Homo sapiens: one gene and its partners. The protein of the gene in region 1 interacts with the protein of each later gene in a pairwise test. Each region holds a gene or a part of one and is shown on either strand. Other genes may lie near its edges. The genes, in order: IFT88, EML2, MSRB1 and KATNIP.

Region 1 (7,253 bases):
ATGGCATTCAAACCATTCACAAATAGTTTTCTTTTTTCGTCTCCCACTTTACTTCGTTTTTGTTTTGTTAAAGCTTTATTGATAAAAGCTTTATATAAATACCATAAAATTCACTCATTTTAAGTATATGATTCGATAATTATTGCTGTATTTATATAGTTGTGGAACTATAACCACATCCTTATTTTAATTCATTTCCATTACCCTAAAAATAAAACCTGTGCTCATTAACAGTCATTCCCCATTCTTATTCCCAGCCCTAGGTAACCATTAGTCTTTTTTTTTTTTTTTCAGACAGGGTCTCTCTCTGTTGCTCAGGCTGGAATGCAGTGGCATGATGTCTGCTCACTGGAACCTCTGCCTCCTGGGTTCAAGCAATTCTCCCACCTCAGCCTCCTGAATAGCTGGGATTATAGGCACATGCCACCACGCCGGGCTAATTTTTGTATGTTTAGTAGAGACGGGGTTTCACCATACTGGTCAGGCTGGTCTGGAACTCCTGACTTCAGGTGATTCGCCCGCCTCGGCCTCCCAAAGTGCTGGGATTACAGGCATGAGGCACCGTGCCCGGCCCATTAGTCTATTTTCTGTCTCTCTGTCTCTTCTAGGCATTGTACATAAATGGAGTCATACAATTTGTGATATTTTGTCTTGCTTCTTTCACTTGGCATAATTTTTTGAGATTCTTCCATTTTGTAGCATGTATCAGTACTTCATTCCTTTTTTTGTCAAATAGCATTTCATAGTATGAATACATACCATATTTTATTTATACATTGCCTACTTGGTAGACATTCGTCTTGTTTCTACTTTTTGGCTATTATGAATAATTGTTATGAATGTTTGTGTAAAAGCCTTTGTGACGATCTATATTTTCATTTCTCTTGGGTATATACCTAAAAGCAGAATTGCTGGTCACATGGTAAATTTGTGTTTTAACTTTTTTAGCTAACTGCCTGTTTTCCGAAGTAGCTGCACCATTTGACATCTCAGTGAATGAGGTTTCTAATTTCTCTAAATACTCACCAAAACTTATTGTTTCTTTGATTGGAGCCATTCTAATGGATGTGATCCCACCTTATTTCTAAACACTCCTCAATATAATCCCTCTATTTCAACTCAATTAGTTTATTCATAATTCTCTGATCAGATCATAAAGACTATTATTTCCCTGACTGGTCTCAGGTGTTGCCTTTTTCTCAGATGTTATCCCTTCTCTCCTCCTAAAGAGTCAATATCAAGTATGCCTCCTTCATAAAGCCTTTCTTGATCATTCTTGTTCTCAATAATGATTTCTTCCACTGAATTATTATAGCACCCATTGTCTTGATTATTGATTATGAAGCACTTAATATATGTTACTCAATACAATTTTTTTTCTAAAATGCTCAAATTCTTGGTCTCACCTGGCTTAAAAGTACTTCAAGGGCATTGTGTTCTGTAAGTTAGATAATATTTGCTAATGATAATGAGATATTATGTAAAATTCAAAAACGAATGATCTTAAAAGATGGTATTGCAAATAAATTAACTTTCACAGAGAAACTGTACTGTGCCTAGGGGAAATTATGATCAGTAAATATCTTGGAAACTTCCTATGTCCCCACAGTTATCACTAGACCATAAGAGAACTTACTGTTTCTGCTCCTGAATATTATAATAGAAAATATCCCAGCTTCCCCCTCTTCTAAGACTCAGAAGTAATCCTTTTCTCTATTTCATTCTCAAGCTACAGCAAGAACGTAAGGGGAGCTTAATTTCTAGCCTTGTATTGATATGTTCTGGAGGACTGCTATTATGATTTTGTGTCCGCATTAAGTTATATCAGGGTAGTAATGGCCTTCAGGGTTAACCCCTTTATTGGTCACTTAGTTTTATTTCATATGATCATATACAATGCTTTAACCTTTAACTTGTCATTATAAAAATGTGTACAAGTAGTAAGAAGGGAACAGATCAAAATACTACACGTATAAATCTCATGTACAAACACTTTGAAATGTTCAACCCACTGAAAACAGGTCAGAAGAGTTATCTTGTTTCAGAAAAACACTTAAATTTTACAATTATTATCTATTGTTATAAACTTACCTCATTTGCTTATTGACACTTGGAACTTGGTCTAATGCCATTCGGTAGAATTTAATGGCTTTGGAATAATTTCTTTGCTTTAAATAGATATTTCCCATATTCATTTTCAATATTCCTAATTTAAAAAAATTTAATGAATGTATAATACTCTCATTTTTCCACTCTTTGATATTTTAGATGACTTTTAATTCATATTCTCTGAAGCATTTCTCAGTTATGAAGTCTCAGATATTATCTAAAATTCTAACTTTAAAACAGTTATACTTTTCAAACTTACCTCCTGTGAAGAAATGGAACTTAAGACAGATTCCTGAAACTATGGCTAGAAAACAACTGATTTACATTATTGTGCTTTACATTATTGTGCGTTCTTCTAAGAAAACATGGAACTTAAAGACATTTAAAAGTTAGACTCAAGAATGCCACATACATTTTAATAATATTAAAGGAAACGACATTCTGATAAACATTAATACTGCTACCAAAAAATTACACAATATAAATGCTAAATATAAACTATAATCTCTTGGGGATAAATTTATATAAGGAAAAGCACATTCTATGAGGATGTCATGGCTCATTCTACTTGTGATAACAGGATACTATTAGGCAATATACCTCATACTAACTATATTTCTTCATCTGTAAGGATTTTTATATAAATAGTATGTTTAAGCAGGATACCCCTATCATAAATACTGATTTGTTTAGAGCATAGATCATTTCATTTTAAGGAAGCATAAAATGAAGAGACATAAATTAACACTACGAAAGAATTACATCTATTGGAAAAACTGATTATGTACACTTACCTGCATTGCTAAACATCTTATTTTTGACTATAACTTGATAAGTGTTAAGTGCTTCGGCATACATTTCATTAACTGAATACTGACTGGCCAAATTGAAAAGAACCTAAGGAAGAAAATATTATAGAAAAGACACATAAGACCACTTTAGGCCCCTTTCACCTATAATCTTTCTAGAGATTAAAATCCTATAACAAAGTTAGCTACTTATATCAAGATACTCAGCCAATTATGAAATTAAGTAAACAAAAGAATTATCTTGCATTACAAATGAACATTAAGAAAAGAAGACCTGTCCTCTAAATTTCACCTTAATTTTCTATGTATTCTATTTAATTTAGTAGTATTTGCCATCTATTAATCTCTGGAGGACCTACAAAGAATAAATGTGTATCATTAATGCTGCTGGTGATCAAAGAAATAAGCAAGATCGTGAACTAAATATAAATTAAACGTGGAAATATCTTAAACCTTAAAGTCTATCAGAAGAATCTGTATAGTAAGCTCTATATACTAAATTACAATTTAAGTAATTAATTTATAGTAAATTATGTTCCTAAAGGTAAAAAATGATCATCATAAATTATCCCTGAAAGATTTCATGGAATCGTAGAGTATCAGCTATAAACAGTAAGCATCTAACACTTCAAAATTTCAAACGCCCTTTTTTTCCTATGTGTTTAGCATATGAAACCTTTACCCACTGAAAATACACCCTTTTAAACAGAAGTGCAAACATTATGGAGGTGTCTTTTCAGAATTAAATAAATGTTGCTAGAAATTAGAGGCATTAGTTTTTTTTCCCCACTACCCTCATAGAACATTATTTTATATGCCTAAAGTTCTTGAAAATCACTGACCGAAAAGTCTACATTACAATCTCATCAAAATAACCACCTTGATAGAGCATTAAAATTAGTGCTCTTCAAGAAATAGAGCCATTGCATGGTAGGTTTGCAGGTACTTACCAAGTTATCAAAAAAAAAATATATATATATATATTTTTTTTTTGAGACGGAGTCTCGCTCTGTCGCCCAGGCTCTGGAGTGTGGTGGCAAGATCTTGGCTCGCCGCAAGCTCCGCCTCCCGGGTTCACGCCATTCTCCTGCTCCAGCCTCCCAAGTAGCTGGGACTACAGGCGCCCGCCACCACACCCGGCTAATTTTTTGTATTTTTAGTAGAGATGGGGTTTCACCATGTTAGCCAGGATGGTCTCGATTTCCTGACCTTGTGATCTGCCCGCCTCGGCCTCCCAAAGTGCTGGGATTACAGGCGTGAGCCACGGCACCCGGCTACATATTTTTTAATAAATAGAGACGAGGTCTCACTATGTTGCCCAGGCTGGTCGCAAACTTCTGAGCTCACTCAGTAATCCTCCCACCTTGACCTCCCAAGGTGTTAGGATTACAGGCGTGAGTCACTGCACCCAGCCTAAAATAACTAGTTAAATAACTAAAGAAAAGAGCTCTTTGCACAAAACAAAGACAAGAGTGTTTTATGAACTAAAGATTATTATTAATCTAATTGTGAGCACCTGAAGACCAGTAAGATTTTAAAAATAAAAGAAAAAAGACTCTGGAACCCATTAACCCTAGTCAAAATTTTATTTAAAAATTGTGTTATATTTCAATACTTACTGAGTAAGTTAAATCCAAATTGATATTTTCTGGAGTTGTAACTTGTTCTCGCTGTCTCACCAGGACTCTCTCTTTTCTTCCTGCATCTTTTGCCTTTTCTAAGGCCTGAAATCAGATTTATACCTTGTAACTTCCTTTGAGTGTTCATCAACTTTTATGCATTTGAGAAATATCTACATGAAGGTTGGATGAATTCATTTTCTATCCTCAGATTCCTCAAGACACCCCTGTGTGCTCTTACCAGAAACTTCCCTTGGAAAGGGACTTTTTGTTTTTTAGAATGACAAAAAAAGCCCCAGTTCTATGAGTAGTAAAAGCAGCTTTTTAAAGTGAACATTTCTTTCTAATGGTATTCATTAATCCAATAACTCACAGAAATTATATTTATATGATATGACAATCAAAGTAACATGAACAAAGCAAATTAAAAGTAAAGATTGATATTTAAAAAGCCAAGTTAGATTCCCAAAAAGCAAACTAATTTTTTAGTTTACTTAGGAAAAAATATTTGATAGTAGAGAGACTTCAAGAAGAAAACAGCCCTTAGTACTGTGTGTGGCTCATGGTAGCTACACCTTTCAGCAGCATATTGCTATCTAATCCAATAGTCCACCAGGCTGCCAAGTTAAGTATACAAATACATTAGAATTTTTTTCCCTACTGAAAAGGCCAATGTCAAAAATTACAAAACCAGCCAATTATTCTGACATTCAAATTTATGAAACTGAGTTACAATTCCTGGTTCTCAAAATAATTGCTTCTTATCCTAAGACCAGTCAACGGCAAACAAAAATATTTGTCTATACATACGGTGTATGTATAAAAGCAGACATACATCTATAAATGCTTCATAATTTTGAATCTTGTTTATGAACTTACCAATTTTAAGTCTCCACAACTATTGGCAATACAGCTTTCTTCTACCAACTCATTTACTTCCTTCTCTAATTGCTTTATTTTTTCCTCTGGGCTATTAAAGACAAAAGCAGGTACAATTTAAATCATTCAACCTCTAAAAATCTATACTAAAATTTATTTTATTTTATTTTATTTTATTTTATTTTACAGACAAGGTCTTACTTGGTTGCCCAGGACGGAGTGCAGTGGCACAATCATAGCTCACTGCAGCCTGTAGTCTTGACTCCTGGGCTCAGGTCATCTCCTCCCACCTCAGCCTCTCAAGTAGCTAGGACTACAGGTGCATGCCACCATACATGAATAATTTTGTTTTTGTTTTTTGTAGTGACAGAGTCTCCTCATCTTGCCCAGGGAGGCTGGTCTTAAACTCCAGGCCTCAAGCGATCCTCCCTCCTCAGCCTCCCAAAGTGCTGGGATTACAGGTGTGAGCCACAACACCCAGCCTAATTTACTTTCAACATTGAACAATGTGCATTTAAACTTCAAGAATAGTTATAGATAAGACAAATGTATACATGGTATTAAAGAGCAAATGTAGTACTGTTTTTAACAACTACATCATGTAATTATTCATAATAGTAAAATAATAACAACAGTCAAGGTAGGTAACATGGCCAGGCGTGGTGGCTCCTGCCTGTAATCCCAGCACTTTGGGAGGCTGAGGCAGGTAGATCACTTGAGGTCAGGAGTTTGAGACCAGCATGGCCAACATGGTGAAACCCTGCCTCTACTAAAAATACAAAAATTAGCCAGGTGTTGGGGCAGGCACCTATAATCCCAGCTACTTGGGAGGCTGAGGCAGGAGAATATTGCTTGAACCTGGGAGACAGAGGTTGCAGTGAGTGATATTGCGCCACTGCACTCCATACTCCAGCCTGGGTGACAGAGCAAGACTCTGCCTCAAAAAAATAAAAAAAAATAAAAATAAACGACAGGTTCTTGCTATGTTGCCCAGGCTAGAGTGCAGTGGCTATTTACAGGCACAATCATAATGCACTACGGCTTGAACTCTTGGGCTTAAGCGATCTTTCTGCCTCAGCCTCCTGAGTAGTTGACACTATAGGCGTGCACCACCATGCCTGGCCATAGAGAAAGTTTCTAATGAGGTGAAGAAGTTTAAAAATCCTGGCTCTATTAATAGCAAATCAAGTATTCCCAAATCAGTTACCTTTCAAAATAACAGTAATGTTGTTTTGCTACCACTTTCTTTTGGCAAAATACAACAATACTCTGAATACACATCAATGCCTAAATAAAATTTTACTACTGCTATATCAGAATAGATAGTAGTTCTCTTAATTCTCTACAAATGGATTTTATAAAAGTATATAGAAATAAATTGAGCAGCATAACTTTTTCTATAAAATTATATTCTTTGAGGAAACCTGGGACTAAGACTACAAAGTTTATTAGTTTATAAAGATCTGTAAAATTCTAACTGAGCAGTAAGCATAATAGATGGTAGTTTTATGAAGGTTACATGAAGTATAGAATTCTATTTTCTAGTTGTCTGAAACACTTGAATGTATGTCTTAAATGTTGCTTACAGATTTTATTATTAAATTCAAAATATCAACATAGAATTTTAAACTTAAAAATCTGTAAGAGAACTTTATGAAGACACTGAAAGTAACTTACCCTGTCCCTATCAAATGCAAAAAAAATGCAATCTATATTCAGGCACTGTTGGCTACCTACCCACACAGAGCCTGCCACCCGCCCTTCTTCTTTGCATGCAGAATCTAAGCAAGTCAAGAGAATCTCATTCTCTTTGCCAAGTGTTTGGTTCAGCCACGAG
Region 2 (7,002 bases), on another chromosome or scaffold:
AGGATTACAGGCGTGAGCCACCGCCACTGTACCTGGCCTTGTTTTGTTTTGTTTTTTGGGGGGACAGAGTCTTGCTCTGTCGCCCAGACTGGAGTCCGGTGGCGCGATCTCAGCTCACTGCAACCTCTGCCTCCCGGGTTCAAGCAATTCTCGTGCCTCAGCCTCCTAAGTAGCTGGGATTACAGGCACGTGCCACCACGCCTGGCTAATTTTTGTATTTTTAGTAGAGACGGGGTTTTGCTATGTTGACCAGGCTGATTTCGAACTCTTGACCTCAAGTGATCCACCCGCCTCGGCCTCCCAGCGTGCTGGGATTATAGGCCTGAGCCACCGTGCCCAGCCCAGGTCACTTCTGGGGTCCCTCTGATCCCTCCCTTAGACCCCACAGATTGCGGCCTCTCTCTGTCAGATCAGCTCACCCCTCCTCCCCCCACCACGCCCTCTCCTTCAAGATGGCTGCTGCTGGACACGGAGACCCATGACCTGGTGGCTATCCACACAGACGGCAATGAACAGATCTCAGTGGTCAGCTTCTCCCCAGGTAAGCGGCAGGCCTGGGACACCCAAGCGGCAGGGCCAGGGGACAGAGGCTCAGAGCTCTTGGCAGGGGGAGGGGTGGAGCCTGCGAAGCGAGGCCTAGGAGGGATGCAGTGGGGATGGAGCTGGGGACTGTTGAGGGGGCTGAGTCTGGGCGAGGAGGGGATGGAGCCTGGGTGCCTCCTCATAGCCCCCCTCCCCCTCCCCCAGACGGGGCGTACCTGGCCGTGGGCTCCCACGACAACTTGGTGTACGTGTACACGGTGGACCAGGGCGGCCGCAAGGTCAGCCGCCTGGGCAAGTGCTCGGTGAGTGGGCAGTGGCCCCCAGCCCGCGCCGCCACCCCGCCCAGGGGGTGCAAAATTAACCAATTTTCTACCTCAAGGGAGCGCAGCTTCAACACTCAACTGATTCTGCCCTGATCAGAGCAAGGAGTCTTGGCCACGTCCACACATTCACCACCTCGTGTGTTCTAAGCCCGCCCCTTTGTGTAGCCCCGCCCCCACGTGCTAAGCCCATCTGTGTAGCCCCGCCCCTCACGTTCCGAGACCGCCCCTCACGTTCCGAGACCGCCCCTCTGTGTAGCCCCGCCCCTCAACATTCAAAGCCAGCTCCTCCGTGTCTAGCCCTGCCCACCTGTTCTAAACTCCCATTGTGTTCTAAGTGCTTTTTGTCTAGCCCTGCCCATCACAGTCTGGCCCCGCCCACAGTATTCTGGCCCTGCCCCCATACTCCAAAGGCCTGTGTATCCTTCCTTTAGTCCCCTTGTGTTCTCGCCCTACCTCTGTATTTGACTTCCACTTTCCTGATTTAATCCTGTCCCCCTCTCCTTGGTTCCGCCCTCTGCAGCTCTAACACCATCCCTTCCCTCCCCCGCAGGGCCATTCCAGTTTTATCACCCACCTGGATTGGGCCCAGGACAGCAGCTGCTTTGTCACCAACTCCGGGGACTATGAGATTCTGTACTGTGAGTTCTCCGGGACCCAGAGACATTACTTCCTCCGTCTCATTTGCAGACTTCCCTGAGTTCTGGGAGGGGAGGGAGGGGCTTCAAGCCTCGCTCCCTTGGTATTCAAGGCTGGTTCTGATTTGGAATTTAGGGACCGCTGGCTTCTCATTTTCTCCCTGGTATACCCCACTTTTAGTCAACTCCTCCCCTTTCCGGTCGGATGGGTAGGATGCAGGTTTCTTTTTTTACATTTTTAAATTTTTAATTATTATTATTATTATTATTATTATTATTATTATTTTGAGACGGAGTCTTGCTCTGTCCCCCAGGCTGGAGTGCAGTGGCGCGATCTCGGCTCACTGCAAGCTCCGCCTCCCAGGTTCAAGTGATTCTTCTGCCTCAGCCTCCTGAGTAGCTGGGATTACAGGAGCACACCACCATGCCCGGCTAATATTTGTATTTGTATTTTTTTTTTTTTGAGATGGGAGTTTCCCTCTTGTCTCCTAGGCTGGAGTGCAATGGCACGATGTCGGCTCACTGCAGCCTCCGCCTCCCAGGTTCAAGCGATTCTCTTGCCTCAGGCTCCTGAGTAGCTGGGATTCCAGGTGTCCACCACCACGCCCAGCTAATTTTTAAAATATTGTTAGTAGAGACAGGGTTTCGCCATGTTGACCAGGTTGGTCTTAAACTCCTGACCTCAGGTGATCCGCCTGCCTTGGCTTCCCAAAATGCTGGGATTACAGGCATGAGCCACCACACCTGGTCTAATTTTTGTATTTTTAGTAGAGATGGGGTTTCACCATCTTGGCCAGGCTGGTCTCGAACTCCTGACCTCAGGTGATCCAGCCAGATGCTGTGGCTCATGCTGCCTCCTGGGATTACAGACGTGAGCCACCATGCCCGGCCAGATGCGGGTTTAAAAGTAGATGCTCCTGCTTACGCTGCGGGCTGTGAAGACCCCAGCATGTGATGCCTTCTCAGCCAGTCCTGACAGGTAGAATGAGCCCTGGGACCTTAGCCTCCTCTGTCTTGGACCTCAGCTCCGATTGTCTAAGAAAGGGATGGGTTTACTGGGTAGTTCTTCCAACTCTGAATGTCTCCTCCCATTTTCTGCCCCAGGGGACCCGGCTACCTGTAAGCAGATCACCAGTGCGGATGCTGTGAGGAACATGGAATGGGCCACAGCTACTTGTGTCCTAGGGTTTGGGGTGTTTGGTGAGTTCTGGAATGAGAGAGGTCTCACTGAGGACAGTAGTTCTGAGAGACATCCCCGCTGGTGGTTTCCAGAGTCTTACTGCTTACCTCCAGTGTGGGAAGCTCACTGCTTTACTGCATGTGGGCTGTATTTGTGTAAGAGGAAAGGGTAGGGTGAGATGACTCATTAGAGCTGTAATAAAATGAAACCAAATGGGCGTGGTAACTGGCCAGGAGAGATCCACACTGCCGGTGCCCTAGCCACCCATTCATTCAGGCACGAATGAAGCAAACACATATTCCCTGAGCAGTTCTGTGCCTGCCGTGGGCTTGGCAGTGACCATGACTGACGGCCCTGCTCTCCTGTGGCTCTCAGTCCAGTGGGGGAGGCAGACTTGTCCCCAGACAGTGATGACCCAGAGTGAGCAGGTCTGAGACAGGGAAACCCAGGGTGGGGCATCTGGCCTACTCTTGGAGGGAATCAGGGAGGGCTTCCTGGAGGAAGAGACATCTGAGCTAGGACCTGGAGGATGAGGAGTTACTTTCCAGGGCAGTGAAGAAGGAAAGCAGTCTCTTGGCAAAGGGAATAGTACATACAAAAGCCCACGCGTGACACAGAACTTGGCATTTGGAGAAATGCAGGGAGGCAGGGTGGCCAAATCATTACAGAGTTTAACAGGAGCACTGATGAGGGATGAGGCTGGAGCAGTGCATGGGGCCTGCTGAGCCTTAGAACCACAGGCTTTCTTCTAAGATCACCAGGGAGCCATGGAAGGGTTTTAAGCAGAGCAGGGGCAGGCTCGGATTCACATTTTAAGGTAATTCTGACTCATATCCTCGGATAGATACAGGCTAGGTCGGAACAAATTAAGGTGGCTGGAGTGGCAATCTGCTCCTCTTGGCGGTCCCTGGCTCCAGCTGACATCTTACCACTTCCCTTCATCTTGCCCACAGGGATCTGGTCTGAGGGGGCGGACGGCACTGATATCAACGCTGTGGCCCGCTCTCATGATGGGAAGTTGCTGGCTTCAGCTGATGACTTTGGCAAAGTTCACCTGTTTAGCTACCCCTGCTGTCAGCCTCGAGTGAGTCCCTTGGGGAGATGGGGATGGACGGGGGTAGCAAGCAGGGGTGGGGACAAAATTCAGGCAGCTCTGGTCCAACCCCACCCCTTCTCTGAGCCTCGGTTTCCCCATCTGTACAAGGAGGACAGTAGTCTTGATCCCAAGGGCCTTTCTTAACCCCAAGGTGGATGAATTTCAGTGTGTCATGGTGAAGACCTGGTTCTCTGAAGTTCTGAGCAACTGCAATTCTGAGCTCTTTGGTTCTTTTATCCTTGTTAACTCAGTAAATATTTATTGAGCACCTACTATGTACCTAGGCACAGGATATACAACCAGATCTTATGAGTTTTTAAGGGAGGCCAAGGCCAGTTGCAGTGGCTCACACCTGTAATCGCAACACTTTGCAAAGCTGAGGCAGGAGGATTGCTTGAGGCCAGGAGTTCAAGACCAGCCTGGGCAACAAAGTGAGACCCCATCTCTACAAAATACACACAAAATTAGCTGGGCATGGTTGTGCATGCCTGTAGTTCCAGCTACAAGGAAGTCTGAGGTGGGAGGATTGCTTGAGCCCAGGAGGTTGAGGCTGCAGTGAGCCATGATTGCACCACTGTACTCTAGCCTGGGCGACAGAGCAAGACTTTGTCTCAAAACAAAGACAAAAACAAAAAAAAAAGCTGGACGTTAATTTTACCATTCTCTGGTTCTAACAGAAGAGGGATTGTTTCAGCATTTTCCTAGGAAATTTTCATGCATAAAAGCAGAAAGACTAGTACAGTGACTCCTCCTGTACCTGTTACCCATGTTCAACTATTACCAGATTTGGTATATTTATTTCATTTGTTTCTTCTTTCTCCTTTCTCTTCTTTTTTTATTTTTTATTTTTGAGACAGGGTCTCACTCTGTTGCCCACGCTGGAGTGCAGTGGCATGGCACAATCTCGGCTCACTGCAGCCTTGACCTCCTGGACTCAAGCGGTCCGCCCACCTCAGCCTTCTGAGTAGCTGGGACTACAGGCGTGCACCACCACACCTGGCCAATTTTTGTATTTTTCATAGAGATAGGTTCTCTGTTGCCCAGGCTGGTCTTGATCTCCTGGGCTTGAGCAATCCTCTCCACCTTAGTTTCCCAAAGTGCTGGGATTACAAGGCATGAGCCACAGTACCTGTCCTGGTCTGTAGTTTTAAGAAACTGCATATGTGGCCGGGTGCGGTGGCTCAAGCCTGTAATCCCAGCATTTTGGGAGACCAAGGTGATGGATCACCTGAGGTCAGGAGTTTGAGACCAGCCTGACCAACATGGTGAAACCCTGACTCTACTAAAAATACAAAAGTTAGCAAGGCGTAGTGGCAGGCGCCTGTAATCCCAGCTACACAGGAGGCTGAGGCAGGAGAATTGCTTGAACCCAAGAAGTAGAGGTTGCAGTGAGCCAAGATCACGCCACTGCACTCCACTAAGCAACAATGCACTGAGCGATAGAGTGAGACTTTGTCTCAAAAAAAAAAAAGAATACAAAAATACAAAAATTAGCCAAGCCTGGTGGTGCACGCCTGTAATCCCAGCTACTGGGGAAGGTGAGGCGGGAGAATTGCCTGAACCCGGGAGGCAGAGGCTGTAGTGAGCGGAGATCGTGCCACTTTACTCCAGCCTGAGCGACAGCAAGGCTCCGTCATAAAACAAAAACAAAAACAAAAAAACCCACACACACGAAAACGCATAGGTTATCTTTTAGCCCTCTAAATTGAGCATTCATGCCTAAAAAAATAAGGATAATTCTGGCCAGGCCCGGTGGCTCACGCCTGTAATCCCAGCACTTTGGGAGGCCGAGGCAGGCGGATCACCTGAGGTCAACAGTTCGAGACTAGCCTGGCCAACATGGTGAAACCCCGTCTTTACTAAAAATGCAAAAAAATTAGTCATGGGTGGTGGCGGGCACCTGTGATCCCAACTACTCAGGAGGCTGAGGCAGGAGGATCACTTGAACTTGGGAGGCGGAGGTTGCAGTGAGTTGAGATTGCACCACTGCACTCCAGCCTGGGCAAAAGAGCGAGATTCTGTCTCAAAAGAAGAAGAAGAAGAAGAAGAATTGTTACATATCCACAAGCCTCTGACCACTCCTAATTAACATTAATTTCTTCTTCTTTTTTTTTTTTGAGACAGAGTTTCACTCTTGTTGCCCAGGCTGCAGTGCAATGGCGCGATCTTGGCTCACTGCAACCTCCGCCTCCTGGGTTCAAGCGATTCTCCTGACTCAGCCTCCTGAGTAGCTGGGATTACAGGCATGCACCACCATGCCCGGCTAATTTTGTATTTTTCAAATAGAGACAGGGTTTCTCCATATTGGTCAGGCTGGTCTTGAACCCCCAACCTCAGGCGATCTGCCTGCCTCGGCCTCCCAAAGTGCTGGGATTATAGGCGTGAGCCACCACGCCCAGCAACATTAATTTCTTACATGCCTCATCCCTAGGAAGGCAAAAACAAAACGTTAATTCCTAAATATGATCTCATAGCCAGTACATATTCATATTTCCCTGATGTGCCCCAGACTGGCCTTCTATGGTTGGTTTGTTTGAACCAGGGTCCAAACTACATTTGCTTATGTCTCAAATCCCAGCATGTAGAATAGCCTTCCCCACGTGCATGCTATTTCTTCTATTTATGCCATTAACTTGCTGAATAAACCAATTCAGTTGCCCTGCTGGGTTTTTTGTTTGTTTTTGTTTTTTTGACAGAGTCTCCCTCTATCGCCCGGGCTGGAGTGCAGTGGCACGATCTCGGCTCACTGCAACCTCCGCTGCCTGGGTTCAAGTGATTCTCATGCCTCAGCCTCCCAAATAGCTGGGACTACAGGCGTGTGCCACCACGCCCGGCTAATTTTTTTGTATTTTTAGTAGAGACAGGGTTTTACCACGTTGGCCAGGCTGGTATCGAACTCCTGACCTCAAGTGATCTCCCCAACTTGGCCTCCCAAAGTGCTGGGATTATAAGCATGAGCCACCACGCCAGGCCTAATTTTGTATTTTTAGTAGAGACGGGGTTTCACCACGTTGGCCAGGCTAGTCTTGAACTCCTGACCTCAAGTGATCCACCCCCACCTCGGCCTCCCAAAGTGCTGGGATTACAGGCGTGAGCCACCATGCCCAGCTGTTCTGTTGGTTCTTTTTTGTTTGAGACAGAGTCTCACTCTGTCACCAGGCTGGAGTGCAGTGGCACAATCTTGGCTCACTGCAACCTCCGACTCCCTGGTTCAAGTGATTCTCC
Region 3 (8,053 bases), on another chromosome or scaffold:
CCGGGGGGCCTGGTATACATGTAGGGGGCATGCCCCAGCCTCAGCTGGACGCTCCCTGCCCCAAGGGCTCAAGATTTTTGCCCCACAGCTGGACGCTGCCCCGCCAGGCACACTGGACAGAAGACCTTGACAGCTGGGCAGTGATGTGGGACCCTTGCCTTGGCTGTCCAAAACATTTGGATATAGTCACAAGCAAGAAATCTCTGCTGCGTCCCACATCCTCCGAGCCTCCTCTGGAGGCAGCTTCCACTCCAGCTGCTGTCATGTGGGTGTGGAGTGCGGCAGCTCCTACTGTGGCCTGGGAGTCAGGCCACCTGGGCTCAAACCGCATCTCCAGGACTTAGCAGCTGTAGAGGCTGGAGCAAGTGACTCCACTCCTCTGATCCTCAGTCTCCCCCAACAAAAATGCAGACTGTCAAGTGAGATAATGCATGAAAAGGACTTAGCTTGTGACTCAGATGCTGCCCTCAGTAGGGGCGGCGTGATAGTCACCCCTACATCTGGGGGCTGGGCACGGGGCTCCTGCCTATCACTGCCCCCTCTGGGGGTTCTGCTAGGGCCCCCAGCCACCCACTAACTCAGAAGCCCTTTCCGGGCCTGGCCTCTGACCTGTGTCCTCTGCAGGGTGGCTTCCCCCACTACGGGGAAGTGAACAACGACTTCGTCATGCTGAAGGGTTGTATTGCTGGTACCAAGAAGCGGGTCATTACGCTGAGAAAGGTTGGCAGTGCTGGGTGGGCTGGGGAGTGGGTGCCCGAGGGCTGCCAGCCTGTCCTGCCCTGCGGCCTGCTACGAGCGGGATGGAGTGGTGGGAGCAGAAGGGGAGGGCTCTGGTAGGAACTAGGTGAGCAAGACCTTCCTGGTGGGGCTTGGAGGTTCACAGCAGGGTGTGGGGGATCCCCACACTTGATGTTTACTTTACCATGGATTCCCCAGTCCCTCCTGGTGCATCACAGTCGCCAAGCCGTGGAGAATATTGAGCTCAAGTTCATTGACACCACCTCCAAGTTCGGCCATGGCCGCTTCCAGACAGCCCAAGAGAAGAGGGCCTTCATGGTGAGCTCACCGCCCCCATCCTTGTTCTTCTCTGGGGCTCCAGCTCCACATCCAGCCTGCCCGAGTAGGGAGCTGGAGCTGGCAGGGACTCCCCTGAGCTCAACTGCAGGAGAGACTCTTTTTTTTTTATTTATTTTATTTTTTGAGATGGAGTCTCGCTCTGTCACCCAGGCTGGAGTGCTGTGCCGTGATCTTGGCTCACTGCCACCTCCACCTCCTGGGTTCAAGCAATTCTCCAGATTCAGCCTACCCAGTCGTTGGTACTACAGGCACGTGCCACCACGCCAGGCTAATTTTCTGTATTTTTAGTAGGGATGGGGTTTCATCGTATTAGCCAGGATGGTCTCTATCTCCTGACCTCATGATCCGACCGCCTCGGCCTCCCAAAGTGCTGGGATTACAGACATGAGCCACCGTGCCCGGCCTGCAGGAGAGACTCTTAAGGGTCTATCCCTGGGCACTGATTCTTTAGAAGAGAAGGTGGGGGAGGAAGCAGCCTTAGGGGGGCAGTAGGGCCGGCCCTGAGTGATCTAGAGCCTGGCTGGGGGAGGGCGTGTTTCTGGCCAGAGTGACTAAGGCTCCTCCTGCACCACCCTCTCAACCAGGGCCCCCAAAAGAAGCATCTGGAGAAGGAAACGCCGGAGACCTCGGGAGACTTGTAGGCTGTGTGGGGTGGATGAACCCTGAAGCGCACCGCACTGTCTGCCCCAATGTCTAACAAAGGCCGGAGGCGACTCTTCCTGCGAGGTCTCAGAGCGCTGTGTAACCGCCCAAGGGGTTCACCTTGCCTGCTGCCTAGACAAAGCCGATTCATTAAGACAGGGGAATTGCAATAGAGAAAGAGTAATTCACACAGAGCTGGCTGTGCGGGAGACCGGAGTTTTATGTTTTATTATTACTCAAATCGATCTCTTTGAGCATTTGCGGAGCAGAGGTTTTTTTTTTTTTTTTTTTTGAGAGAGTCTTGATCTTGTCGCCCAGGCTGCTGGAGTGCCGGGGAGCAGAGTTTTTAAGGATAACTTGGCGGGTGGGGAGAGCCAGTGAGCCAGGAGAGCCGATTGGTCAGGGAGGAAATCACAGGGAGTCAGCTGTCTTCTTGCGCTGAGTCAGCTCCTGGGTGGTGGCCACAAGATCAGATGAGCCAGTTTATCAATCTGGTTGGTGCCAGCAGATCCATCAAGTTGCAGGGTCGGCAAAATATCTCAAGCACTGATCTTAGGGGCAGCTTAGGGAGGGTCAGAATCTTGTAGCCTCCAGATGCACGACTCCTAAACCATAATTCCCAATATTGTGGCTAATGTTAGTCCTAAAAATGCAATCTAGTCCCCAGGCAAGGAGGTGGTCTGCTTTGGGAAAGGGCTGTTACTGTCTTTGTTTTAAACTATAAACTGGCTGGGCGCGGTGGCTCACGCCTGTAATCCCAGCACTTTGGGAGGCCAAGATGGGCGGATCACCTGAGGTCGGGAGTTCAAGACCAGCCTGGCCAACATCGAGAAACCTCGTCTCTATTAAAAATACAAAATTAGCTGGGCGTGGTGGCGCATGATTGTAATCCCATCTACTCGGGAGGCTGAGGCAGGAGAATTGCTTGAACCAGCGAGTTGGAGGTTGCAGTGAGCTGAGATCGCGCTACTGCACTCCAGCCTGGAAACAGAGTAAGACTCCGTCTCAAAAGAAAGAAAGAAAGAAAGAAAAAAACAAAAAACTATAAACTGAGTTTCTCCCAAAGTTATTTCAACCTACCAGCAGGGATGAATAAGGACAGCTTGGAGGTTAGAAGCAAGATAGAGTCGGCTGAGTTAGATCTCTTTCACTGTTTCAGTCATCATTTTGCAAAGGCGGTTTCACCTGGGCGCGGAAAGGCTGCATGACCTCCGGCAGCTCCGGGCTTAGTACCAGGGACTGGACTGGGGGGACACGACCCTACGGATTCGCGCCGTCGCCCACCTGGCCAGGCCCCATGTGCGCCCCTAGCCACCAGGGCGCGAGGGGCGGCAGGGGCGGGGCCTTGGGGAAGCGGCCTAGGGGTGGTCCCTGGGAGTTTCCATGGGCGGGGCCTGCTGGGGAGATGCGATTGGACTGGCACCGGGGGGCGGGGCCTTGGGGAAGTGGCCCAGGAGTGGTCCCAAGGAGTCAACGTGGGCGGGGCCAGCTGGGAAGATCGTATTGGACCAGCCCTGAGGAGGGGCGGGGCCTCCCGGAGGCGGAAGCCGGGATTCGCCCTCCGGGGAGCGATTGGTCCTCGGGAGGGGCGGGGAGGTGGACGCGGGTACCGGCGGTCGTCGGGTCGGCAGCCTTTGGTCAGTTGGCAGCGGCAAGCGCGCTGCGGTTCCGGTGGCGCCATGTCGTTCTGCAGCTTCTTCGGGGGCGAGGTTTTCCAGAATCACTTTGAACCTGGTTGGTCCTGCGGCCTCTCGCTGGGAGGGCAGCGCGGCGGGGGGCGCGCATTAGCGGGGGCGCCGCCGTCGTCCGGGGGTGATGTCTCTCCCAAGCCGGGAATGGGGGCGAATGTGGCTGCCGGGGAGAAGCGAACAGGGGTCAAAAGGACTGCGGAGGAGTGGGGAGCCTGGGGGCGAGGAGAGTGGGGTACCCGAGGAGAGGGGGCCTTGGGGCTCACCGTCCTGGAGGGGGCAGGCCTCGAGTGTGAACGTGCCGTTTCGGGGGTGGGTCTAAGGGATCGGGATACGTGGGGGTGGTACCCCTTCCCTACCCCCTACACTCCAAAGTGATGGCGCTGGGGGAATTCGGGTTAGGGTCGGGGCTTCGGAGAGGCCAGGTTCTTGTCCAGGGCCAGCTCCTGTGGCCGGGGCGCCCCTTCGCGGGTCATCCCGCAGGTGTTACCCTGGCCCTTCCCATTCCCCCGAGTCCGGGATCTCTGGGAGGAGTCTGGCAAGCATAGAATGTCCCCTTCAGATCCTAATGTGCCGGCCCAGGTGCCTCCCCACCTGCCCAGGGACTCCAAATTGGGGAACCAGGAGTGCCACCAGGCACCTGCCAACAGCCCGTGAAGTTTGACCAGGCAGGCAGGATGGGGTGGTTTGGGGCATGGCCAGCCCTCCACACTGGCCCTGATGAATCCCTTCTGGGCTGGGCTCGCCTGGTAGTGGACTAATTTGGTAAAAACACATCCACAGGCAAGTCTGAGTGCACTGGTCTCCTTGGGCGGATCTGCTGGGTGGCACCCCTGTAGCGGGTTGGGCTGTGACACAGGACCATCCCGGCAAAGCCTCCCCCAGCAAGACTCTCTGGCTTTAGATCCCAGTTGTCCTCAGGCTGCTCTGCCAAGCCAGAAACTCCACTTCCACAGCAGCTGCTGGCTTCTCTTTGCTTTTTTCTCCAGTTCCTGGAAAAGGCTGGGTAGTTTACAGTCTCCAGGGGAGGCTGTCCCCAGGTGATGGGTGAGAGGTGACTCAGCACCCCTGGAGGTTCCTGTTTTCAGTCCTTAAAACAGTTCTGCAAGTCAGTTTTGCAACTTTCCCACCCCCTCCACTCCAAAGGGATCCTTTGTGGGTAGGCTGAAATCTGTTGTCCCCAGCCCTCTTTCTTCCTGGGCTCCTGTGTGGCCTGGAGGCCTTTTCTCTGGGACTGTTCTCTTCCTGCCTGGAGAGCAGAGCAGTGCCTGGGTATCCAGCTTAGGGCCTCGTTGGGCAGCAGGGAGGACCACTTGAGAAAGGAGAGGGACCAGGTGGTTGGGCCACATCAGGGCCCCTGCCCTCTATGTTCCTGGGGGAACTAGGGGGGCGAGGGGGAGCTCCGTGTCCTCATTGGACTACCCAGGTTCCTTCACGCTGCACACACTTGTAGCTGAGTGTCTGCATCACCAAGCAAAGATGGAAATGTTAGGATATGCCCCGTCACGGGGCTATGAGAAGAATCAAGGAGATAATTGTGAAAGGTGACTCCCCTGGTCTCTGGCACATCTACTAAACGTGAGCTCAGCACAGCGCCTCCCGTGGCGGGTGCCTGGGGAAGGAGCACAGCCTACCCTCGGAACGGGGGCAGCGCTGTCTTTGCCTGGGTTGGTGGATTTGGGAGCTTGACCCCGGAAAGGCGGGAGCTGATGACTCCACATTTGCCTCTCCTTCCACCACAGGCGTTTACGTGTGTGCCAAGTGTGGCTATGAGCTGTTCTCCAGCCGCTCGAAGTATGCACACTCGTCTCCATGGCCGGCGTTCACCGAGACCATTCACGCCGACAGCGTGGCCAAGCGTCCGGAGCACAATAGATCTGAAGCCTTGAAGGTGAGAGGCCACAGGGGTGGGGGAGGGACGGGGGCGGCCAGGGAGAGCAGAGAGCCAGTCCCACCTTCCTCCCTCTGCTTGCCCCACAGCTCCAGGGGCTTAGAGGCGTCTATTCCAGGCCTGTTGCCTCTGCCAGGGAGCTGCCACCCCAGGCTATCGGGAGAGCCTGGCCTTCTGGTGCAAATGTGGGAAACAGGACAGGTTTCCTGTACGGGCTCCAGGACAAAGGTCAACCTCTTATGTCGGCGGTCAGCTTGGGAAATAGGCGTGTGGGAAGAAACACCATCTGCCAGCCCCAGTAAGGGCCTTCACTGTGGCTGTATCATGGCCAGAAGCTCACCCAGCTGCCTTGTGATCTTTCCAGGTGTCCTGTGGCAAGTGTGGCAATGGGTTGGGCCACGAGTTCCTGAACGACGGCCCCAAGCCGGGGCAGTCCCGATTCTGAATATTCAGCAGCTCGCTGAAGTTTGTCCCTAAAGGTGAGCTTGCTTTGCACAGCTGGGGCCAGGCCTGTTGGCCTTTGAGCCCAGGCTGGGGGGCCCAGTGTTTGTGCTTGTCCACTTACCATGACAAGGTATGGGGCCACCAAGTCACGCTGCCTGGGAACTGTCCAGGATCCCCCAGAAAGGTGGCTGCAGCGCAGGGGCAAAGGAGCTGGTGTTCCGCTTCCTCGCTTGGTTGATCATGACTGTCCCAAAAAGGGGCTTCAGCGTGAGAATGTGGCAAATGGTTTTCCTCAGAGGCCTGGCCTTTCCCAGAGGCTAGAGTCAGGGGCGGGGCAGGCAGAGCCTGAGGCCCCAGTCTGTGCGGCTGTGTCTCCCACTGGCTAGGACTGTGGCCTTGCTTCTTAGCCGCTCAGAGCCTGCCTCCTCCTCTGCAGAGTGGCGGTGGTAGCAGGGCTGTGAGGACAGCTGCGTGTCACGTGCACCTGGGCCTGGCACACAATAATAGCTTGATGAATCCTCATCCTTTTTTTTTTTTTTTCTGAGATGGAGTCTTGCTCTGTCGTGCAGGCTGGTGTGCAGTGGCGCGATCTCAGCTCACTGCAACCTCTGCCTCCTGGTTCAAGCAATTCTCCTGTCTTGGCCTCCCAAGTAGCTGGGATTGCAGGCACGCATCACCACGCCCAGCTAATTTTTGTATTTTTAGTAGATACGGGGTTTCACCATGGTGGCCAGGCTGGTCTTAAACTCCTGACCTCAGGTGATCTGCCCACCTTGGCCTCTCAAAGTGCTCGAATTATAGGCATGAGCCACCACGCCCAGCCCACACCTGGTTAATTTTTAATTTTTTTTTTTTTTTTGGTGACAGAGTCTTGTTCTGTCACCCAGGCTGGAGTGCAATGGCCAATCTCAGCTCAATGTAGCCTCTGCTTCCCAGGTTCAAGTGATTCTTCTGCCTCAGCCTCCCGAGTAGCTGGGATTACAGGCTCCCACTACCGCGCCTGGCTAATTTTTGATTTTTTAGTAGAGACGGGGTTTCACCATGTTAGCCAGGCTGGTCTGGAACTCCTGACCTGAGGTGATCTGCCTGTCTCAACCTCCCAAAGTGCCGGGATTATAGGCGTGAGCTACCGCACCCAGCCAATTTTTAAAATTTTTATAGAGATGGGGGTCTCACTATGTGGCCCAGGCTGGTCTTGAACTCCTCTGGGCCTTGGCCTCCCAAGGTGCTGGGATTACAGGCTTGAGCCACTGCCTCGCCTGAAATGGGGCTGTTAACAGCACACGCTTGTGGCCATCACCGTGCTGTGGGGTTGAGCGAGCAGCCTGTCAGGATCTGGTGCGTGGTAAACCTGCGATGTTTTCGTCCTTTTGTTGTTATTTGTCCTCCGTGTGAGTGGAGGGAGAAGAGATTCTGGGTTCTCCTGTGGATGTCAGAACAAAATGGGGTACACAGACTCCCCTGAGTCGGGCATCTGGTCTTTTCAGCTCCCCTGTGGCCTGCAGGCCAGGGCAGAGTGTGAAAGCGCAGGGAACGGCACCTGAAGCTCTGCCTTGCAGTGACTTGCTTTCTGCCCCTACCCTGGCTTTCCACCGCCCCCGCGCCCGGCTTTCCGCCCCTGCTTGCTTTCTGTCCCCGCATACTTTCCGCCCCCTCTCCTCTCTTTCAGGCAAAGAAACTTCTGCCTCCCAGGGTCACTAGGCGGGCAGCCCACACCCACCCCAGACGGCCACCACACTGAGGCCACACGTTGGCCATTCCACCTTGGAGTTGGAACCCTGGGCGTCGAGACAGGAAGGCAGGGCGCAGTGGTTGAAACATCAGGACACTCCCAAGGCCCCGGCTCTGAACAAGACCTTTTCGTTTCTTGGAAAAGAGACTCATTTGCTGATGGTTCATGCCTTCTGCTGGGACAGGCCTGGGCTGTGCAGCCACACTGTCGGCTGACTTAGCCCCCTGCTCACTCTAGGTGCCTCCAGGAGGTGAGCCCTGGGTGCAGCTGGTCTCTGAATGACGTTACACCCTCACCTTCTTTTCCTGGCCCTGTCTCTGGACTCTCCCCTGTGAGGCCCAATTCCAAGACAGACTCTCGTCCTCACCGAAGCTTAGGCCCACATCTCCCAGGCTGCTTAGGAGACAGAATGGAAACGGAGGCCGCCCCTGCCAGCCGCCCTGGCCCTGGTCACTGCATGATCCGCTCTGGTCAAACCCTTCCAGGCCAGCCAGAGTGGGGATGGTCTGTGACCTGCTGGGAAGGCAGGCTGATGGGGCACACCCTTGGCCTCTCGTCCACGAGGGGAGAAACCTAAAC
Region 4 (7,253 bases), on another chromosome or scaffold:
AAGAAGGGAGAAAGAGCCTGGGGTTAAAGCCCTGACGACTGGAGGGGGAGGAAGCAGGCTGGTTCTTGAGGAGAGAAAGGATTTTCCCCCTGGATCCTTTCGTAAAGATGTCCTTTATACAGAGCTGCACTGAGGGGGCGCAGAGGAATCCAGACTCGCAGAATCTTCCATCCTGCTTTCCTCATGGGGCAGATGTGACTCTCATACAGCCTCTAAGCACACCCTTGTGGTATAATGACACTTATGCGGTATATACGTAAATATGTAGAAAAATGTCTTGAAGAACTGGAACCCACACACATACGCACACCCACCACCCAGTGGAGGTGGAGGTGGGGGCTGGGGTGGGGTAGGAGACAGTTAGTCTATAAGGACTTATTTATTATTATTATTATTATTTTCTTTTTTGAGACAGAGTTTCCCTCTTTTGCCCAGGCTGGAGTACAGTGGCACAATCTCGGCTCACTGCCACCTCTGCCTTCTAGTTTCAAGTAATTCTCCCGCCTCAGCCTCTCCAGTAGCTGAGATTATAGGTGCCTGCCACCACGCCTGGCTAATTTTTGTATTTTTAATAGAGACAGCGTTTCTGGCACCTCTGCAGAGCGGTCTCAAATTCCTGACCTCGTGATCCACCTGCCTCAGCCTCCCAAAGTGTTGGGATTACAGGTGTGAGCCACTGCGCCTGGCCCATAGGGACTTATTTAAAAAAAAAAAAAAAAAAAAAGGCCAGGTGCAGTGGTTCATGCCTGTAATCCCAGCACTTTGGGAGGGCGAGGTGGACGGATCACCTGAGGTCAGGAGTTTGAGACCAGTCTGGCCAACATGGTGAAACCCCATCTCTACTAAAAATACAAAAAATAGCCGGGCGTAGTGGCGTGCCTGTAATCCCAGCTACTCGGGAGGCTGAGGCACGAGAATCGCTTGAACCTGGGAGGCAAAGATTGCAGTAAGCTGAGATCACACCACTGCACTCCAGCCTGGGTGACAGAGAGAGACGTCTCAAAAAATAAAAATAAAAATTTAAAAAAGGGTAGGGGCTCAGAGCTCCACCGGTACAGGTGCTCCTAACAGTGGCTAGGCTAGCATGGGCCAGGACTGTGGCTTTCTTGGAATCTAGCTTGACCCACAGAAAGATGGTGGTTAAGACCTTAGCATGCCAGCCATAGTGGCTTACCACATACCAGCTGTGTGACCTTGGGGAAGGCATGTGCCTCAGTTTCTCCATCCATAAGATGGGGCCCTAATGCTTCCCTTGCAGGATTGTTCTGAGGATGACATAGGACAAGGCAGTCTGTTATCCTTTAAACAGAATATCCAGAGAAGTGACTAATATTCCCTATGGGGACCCCACTCTGGTGATCCTTGGGCCACATCTGCCCATGAATGTGGCTTGTTTGGCCTGCAGAGTGCTGGAAACCTTTCAGAGCTCAGAGCTGCCAGGCAGGGTACGACCCTCCCACCTCCCTGTGACCCCTGCATACCACTGATTTCCACCTGAGCCCACTCCTCTCTTACAAGCCTGACCCCTGCCTCCGCCTGCTTCCCTCTCTCAGTTCCCTCTCCGCCAGACGTCTTGGTGGGAACAGGGCTGGAGGTCAGATGGGCTCTGGACTGGGGAAGGAAGATGGGTGGCCATGTTGTGGAAGCCGGCCACCCTATTAGGAAAGCTAGGATGCCCACCTTGTGACTGTGCTGGACTAGATGGTTTCCCCATCACCCACTACCTCTTTAAAGGAAGGTGTTTCTGTCTCACCAGATATCCCTGTGGCAGTAATTTTGCAGAACCAGTCATTGAAAACTGCCCATGCTGTCCTTCTCAAATAGCTGTTCCCCGGTGAATTCACAGCACGCACTTGCTCTGTGCCTCTGCTAAACAGAGAATCCATCCATATAAGCAGGTAAAAGAGTGCTTTGAGAATCGACTTTTCTGACAGTCGGCAAATGGTAGCCTGCCATCTGCAATTGGAGGATTGAAGCCGAGTTCCTGTGGCGTAACGCAGGCCGGACAGTTCTCCTTCTAAATTGCTGCGGAAACCTCTGTAACTCAGTGATCCTGAAATTTGTTAGCTCCTACTCACCTAGCTTTCAGGAAGGCTAAGAAGGGGTTAGTATAGGTGAACATCTCCAGGGTCTCAGATTCTGTCTCCCAAGAGCAGATCAGAAGCCAAGGCAACACGGGAAATAAACGATCTGGAGGTGAAACCCACAGGCCGCCGCTTTTCTGATCAGGTTCATTCTTAGAGCACTGTTGAGACAGCAGTGCTGTTCAGGAGAGAAAACCCATGTTTATTCATTTGCTATTCCAAAGTAATTTATTTATTTATTTTGAGACGGAGCTTCACTGTCGTCACCCAGGCTGGAGTACAATGGCACGATCTCAGCTCACTGCAACCTCCCCCTCCCAGGTTCAAGTGATTCTCCTGCCTCAGCCTCCCGAGTAGCTGGGATTACAGGCTCACGCCATCATGCCTGGCTAATTTTTGTATTTTTAGTAGAGACGGGGTTTCATCATGTTGGCCAGACTGGTCTCGAACTCCTGACCTCAGGTGATCCATCCACCTCGGCCTACCAAAGTGTTGGGATTACAAGCATGAGCCACTGCGCCTGGCCCAAAAATAATTGTTGGGTGGCTACAATGTGCCCTTGGACAAGACGGGCAGGGCTTCAGCTGTCTTGGAGCCTAACTTTGAGTGGGAAAAACAATAAATAAGTTAAAAGCTGATAAGCAAGACCATTCAGAGACTAAAAGGAAATAAAACAGGGCAATAAGATAAAGAGGGGACCGATGAGGTGGGGCTGCCCTAGAGGTGTGTTCACTGAAGGTCCTGAACAGAAGAAGGAGCAAGGCTGTGGGCATCTGCGGCAGAACACGCCAGGCAAGTGCACAGGCTCTAAGGCAGGAGGAACAGGCTGAGCCACATCAAGGAATCGAGGCAAGCGCCAGGAGCCGGAGTCAGAGAGGTCAGCAGGCACCCCTGAAGGGGAGTAGGATTTCTTGTCAGTGCCATAGGAAGTCACTGGGCAGCTTTAAGCAGGAGGCTCCCATGATCTGATTTCAGTTGTTAAAAAAAGACTCACTGCTGTGTGGAAAATGAAGTGAGTGCAGGGTTTGGGGGAGACAGCCCAGAGTGGAGGCAGAGAGACCAACTAGGAGGCGATGGTGGTGTCTCTGGGGGAGACCCTGGTGGCCCAGGCAGCAGCACACGCGGGCAAGGAGGTCAGCTCCAGGGCGTGTTCTGGAGAGAGAGCCGAGGGACGTGCCCACATACTGGATATGAGTGAGAAAGTGAGAGGGGACGAGGGGACGGCAAGCTTTTTAGCAACCGCTCGAATGATGGACCCATTTTTAAGATAGTTTAAGACTAAGTGTGGAGAAAGTGATTTCAGAATTCTGTTTCAGGCACACCAGGCACATTGACTCACACCTGTAATCCCAGCACTTTGGGAGGCCAAGGCAGGAGGATCCCTTGAGCCCAGGGGCTCAAGACCAGCCTGGACAACATAGTGAGACCCCGTCTCTACAAAAAAAAATTTATTTTAATTAGCTGGTCGTGGTGACGTGTACCTGTAGTCCCAGCTATCCAGGATGCTGAGATGGGAGGGTCACTTGAGCCCAGAAATTCAGGTTGCAGTGAACCCTGATCGAGCCACTGTAACGCCAGCCTGGGCAACAGAGCAAGACCTTGTCTCTTAAAAAAAAAAGAGAGCATTCTGTTTTGGGCATTTTATATTGGAATTCCTGTTAGATATCCAGGAAGAGAGGCCAAGCAGTCACTTGGGGCTTGGTGGAGAGGTCAGGGTTGGAGATGAAAATAACTGGGAGCCTGGGACCTGAATGAGACCACCTGGAGAGCAAGGGAAGAGCACTCGGGAGGCCTAGGACTGAGCCCTGGGCAGCCTAGTCGTTCAAAGTGCAGCCGAAGAAAAGGAAGCAACCCAGGAGTCGGGCAGGCTCAGCCAGCGAGGCAGGAGGAAAGCCAGGTGGGTGCAGAGCCACACAAGCCCCAGGGAGGAAAGTCATCGCAAAGGAGGGGAAGCTGCCGAGTACTGCCGAGCCGCCACACCCACCCACTCCTAGGAGAAATTCCTATTGCGTATGGCAGTCAGCTGGACCCTGTAATTTACTTTAGGAACCAGACACTTCTGAGAGTCATTAGTAATGACACCAGGATAACAGATATAAATCAGAATTGTCCCAGACAAACTAGGATGGCCCGTCACCCTAGTTACAGGTGCCCGGGCCAGGTGGGTTCCATGTGGAGGTGGAGGCAGAAGCCCAACGGGAGGAGGAACAAGGGGTAGTGGGAGGAGGAGCCCACGGGGACAGTGACACTCAGAGATTCACTGACGGGGTGACGGACAGATCATGCGGGGGGCCCTGCAATGGAATATTCCTTAGCAGTAGAAAGGAAAGGAACTATCAGTTCCCATAACACAGGTGAATCTCAGAGCAGTTATGGTGACTGAAAGAGCCGAGCAAAAAAGACTACATGCAACATGATTCCTTTATGTAAACATTCCAGAAAGGACGATCAGTATATAGGGAGGGACCATAAGTGGGTGGTTGCCTGGAGCCAGGGAAGGAGGAAGGGGAGACAGGGGTTACCAAGGGGCACGAGGAAACCTTAGGGTGATAGGTACGTTTGTTCTCTTGAGTGTGATGGCTTCATTGGCGTAGACACATGTTAAAACTGATCAAGCTGTACCCGTTAAATATGCACAGTTTATTGTATGGGGTGTGTATTCTATTCCCCGATAAAGCTGGAAAAAGAGTTTTGCTGTAAAGAGGATGACACAAGTGAAACAGTAGCAGGAGATGTGATTTTATCTTAAGCATGGAAGGAAGAGAGTTGAACCTGCGTGACATAGGGGCATTTAGGCTGGCAGTGAGAGAGGAGAGCGAGGTGGGGACCATTTGTGAAGGTTACTGTATGTCATGTGGAGAGCTTTGGAATTTATCCCATCATCGGCATGGTTCTGCACCCCGTCGTGTGAAGAAATCATCCGGAGAACTTGTTCTGAGTCCAGAAGTTACCTACAGGCTGCCTTGAGGCAGTGGTCCTCACACGGCATCCTCCTGGCTCCCTTCCAACTGCAGCTGCCGTGAACATGGGACAGTCCCCGCATGTGGACAGTGCCCTGCCTCAGGTGCTCGTGGGGTGCTCTGCCGTGGGAGCACACTCAGCTCGTGCATGTGTTGGGGCATCAGTGCCCTGAGGGCAGCCTTCAACAAGCAGTGGATAAATGTCCCAGTCTTGGAGAGACATTTGCGACATGCATTTAAGCAGAAGACTCCCATGATCTGATTTCAGTTAAAAAAAAAAAAACTCACTGCTGCATAGAAAATGAAGTGTGAGTGCAGGGATTTGGAGGAGACAACGCAGAGTGGAAGCAGAGAGACCAATTAGGAGGCGGCAGTGGTGTCTCTGGTAGAGACCCTGGTGGCCTGGGCAAGGAAGGCAGCAGCACATTCCAGGTAAAGAGGTCAGACCCAGGAAGTGTTCTGGAGAGAGAGGCGAGGGACAGCTGGCGGATTGGATGGGCAAGTGAGAAAGAGAGGGATCAAGGGGGCCACGAGGTTTTTGGCCACTGCTTCAATGATGGAGCCATTTTTAAGATAGGTGAAGACTAGGGTTGGGGAAAGTGAGATCTTGGAGTGCCGCAGAGGGCCCCCGTGGGAAGGAGCACCAGTTGGCCACAGCAGTGACCAGCTCAAAAAAACTGGGTTTTTCCTTTTTCCTGCCCTATCTTGCTTTCCCCATTTCCTCTTGGAATCACCTGCCAAATACTCGACTTGCACCCGAGTCCTTGTCTCAGCCTCTGCTTTTACGGTCTCCCAATTATGATGCCCACGGAGGCCAGGAAAGCTGTTTTATAAGCACTCCAGGCTTTTCGACGCAGATGGTCTCAGGAACTGGACTTTAAAGAACACTGCTATAGGCTGTGAAAAAACATGAAGGATTTCACACAGGGGAATGACTGGACAGATTTGCTCTGGTAGGAAATGAACTCTGGTGGCAATGTGAAGTCCAAGTTAAAGTAGCAAGAGACAGGAAGCAGGGAGACCCATTAGTAGGCTATTACGAATGTCCCGACAGGAGGTAATGATGACGAAGGCAGCGATTGAGGCCGTCTCTTTGTGAAAGTCCTTTGATTTATAGAGTATGTAGCGGTTCCCACAGAAATGAGACCAAGCCTAGTTTCACACCCCCAGCACTGTGGTTTTCAAAAGCTTGCATTTCTAGCATTTCACATTTTCTTTTCTTTTTTTGGTATCTTCGACTTCCAAAATTTCATACATCAGTCTGATGCTATGCATCTTCACTTTGTTAAATCTTATGGTTTCAGGATCTTGACATTGGTGCCAAGAACGTGAAGCTTTACGTCAACAGAAACCTCATCTTCAATGGCAAGTTAGACAAAGGAGATAGGGAGGCCCCAGCTGACCACAGCATCCTGGTTGACCAGAAGAACGAGAAGAGCGAGCAACTAGAGGAGGCCATGAACGCTCACTCGGAAGAAAGCAAAGGCACCCATGAGATGGCTGGTGCCAGCGGGGACAAGGAGCTTGGTCTCGGTTGCTCACCGCCAGCTGAAACATTAGCGGATGCAAAGCTTTCTTCACAAGGAAATGTGTCTGGCAAAAGAAAGAATTCTACTAATTGCAGGAAAGACAGTTTGTCCCAGTTAGAGGAATATTTGAGACTGTCGGCAGTCCCCACTTCGATGGGTGACATGCCCAGTGCTCCTGCCACTTCCCCACCTGTGAAGTGCCCTCCTGTCCATGAGGAGCCCTCTCTCATCCAACAACTGGAAAACCTCATGGGCAGAAAAATCTGTGAGCCACCCGGGAAAACCCCATCCTGGTTACAACCTTCTCCCACCGGCAAGGACAGGAAGCAGGGAGGCAGGAAGCCAAAACCCCTCTGGCTTAGTCCCGAGAAGCCCCTGGCCTGGAAGGGCAGGCTCCCATCAGACGATGTCATCGGTGAGGGTCCTGGAGAGACCGAGGCCAGGGATAAAGGCCTACGGCATGAGCCAGGGTGGGGGACCAGCCGGAGTGTCAACACCAAGGAGAGACCCCAGAGGGCAACCACCAAAGTCCACAGTGATGACTCAGACATCTTTAACCAGCCCCCCAACAGAGAGCGCCCTGCTAGTGGGAGGAGGGGCTCAAGGAAGGATGCTGGCAGCAGTAGTCATGGGGACGACCAGCCAGCCAGCAGAGGTAAGCTCCAAAGAGCAGCCCGACT

Evidence for each region.
Region 2: the proteins of IFT88 (region 1) and EML2 interact in a two-hybrid assay, tested with the Homo sapiens proteins (one large-scale study listed by BioGRID).
Region 3: the proteins of IFT88 (region 1) and MSRB1 interact in binary tests that used the Homo sapiens proteins (3 or more experiments, as listed by UniProt).
Region 4: the proteins of IFT88 (region 1) and KATNIP interact in a two-hybrid assay, tested with the Homo sapiens proteins (one large-scale study listed by IntAct).

The regions. Positions count from the first base shown.
Region 1 is NC_000013.11:20,594,404-20,601,656, reverse strand, and holds part of IFT88 (intraflagellar transport protein 88 homolog), read right to left. Parts: intron 5,508-7,253; coding exon 5,417-5,507; intron 4,643-5,416; coding exon 4,538-4,642; intron 3,007-4,537; coding exon 2,904-3,006; intron 2,207-2,903; coding exon 2,092-2,206; intron 1-2,091. UniProt on the Homo sapiens protein: Positively regulates primary cilium biogenesis. Also involved in autophagy since it is required for trafficking of ATG16L and the expansion of the autophagic compartment.
Region 2 is NC_000019.10:45,610,304-45,617,305, reverse strand, and holds part of EML2 (echinoderm microtubule-associated protein-like 2), read left to right. Parts: intron 1-452; coding exon 453-541; intron 542-747; coding exon 748-845; intron 846-1,416; coding exon 1,417-1,504; intron 1,505-2,605; coding exon 2,606-2,701; intron 2,702-3,634; coding exon 3,635-3,765; intron 3,766-7,002. UniProt on the Homo sapiens protein: Tubulin binding protein that inhibits microtubule nucleation and growth, resulting in shorter microtubules.
Region 3 is NC_000016.10:1,938,502-1,946,554, reverse strand, and holds the start of MSRB1 (methionine-R-sulfoxide reductase B1), read left to right. Parts: upstream 1-3,355; 5' UTR 3,356-3,398; coding exon 3,399-3,453; exon of another isoform or gene 3,454-3,570; intron 3,571-3,673; exon of another isoform or gene 3,674-3,761; intron 3,762-5,149; coding exon 5,150-5,266; coding exon of another isoform or gene 5,267-5,298; intron 5,299-5,662; coding exon 5,663-5,775; coding exon of another isoform or gene 5,776-5,777; intron 5,778-7,411; coding exon of another isoform or gene 7,412-7,483; 3' UTR 7,484-8,053. Other genes in the region: RPL3L (ribosomal protein uL3-like), read left to right, coding at 625-720, 937-1,056, 1,662-1,718. UniProt on the Homo sapiens protein: Methionine-sulfoxide reductase that specifically reduces methionine (R)-sulfoxide back to methionine.
Region 4 is NC_000016.10:27,733,693-27,740,945, forward strand, and holds part of KATNIP (katanin-interacting protein), read left to right. Parts: intron 1-1,802; exon of another isoform or gene 1,803-1,898; intron 1,899-6,348; coding exon 6,349-7,228; intron 7,229-7,253. UniProt on the Homo sapiens protein: May influence the stability of microtubules (MT), possibly through interaction with the MT-severing katanin complex.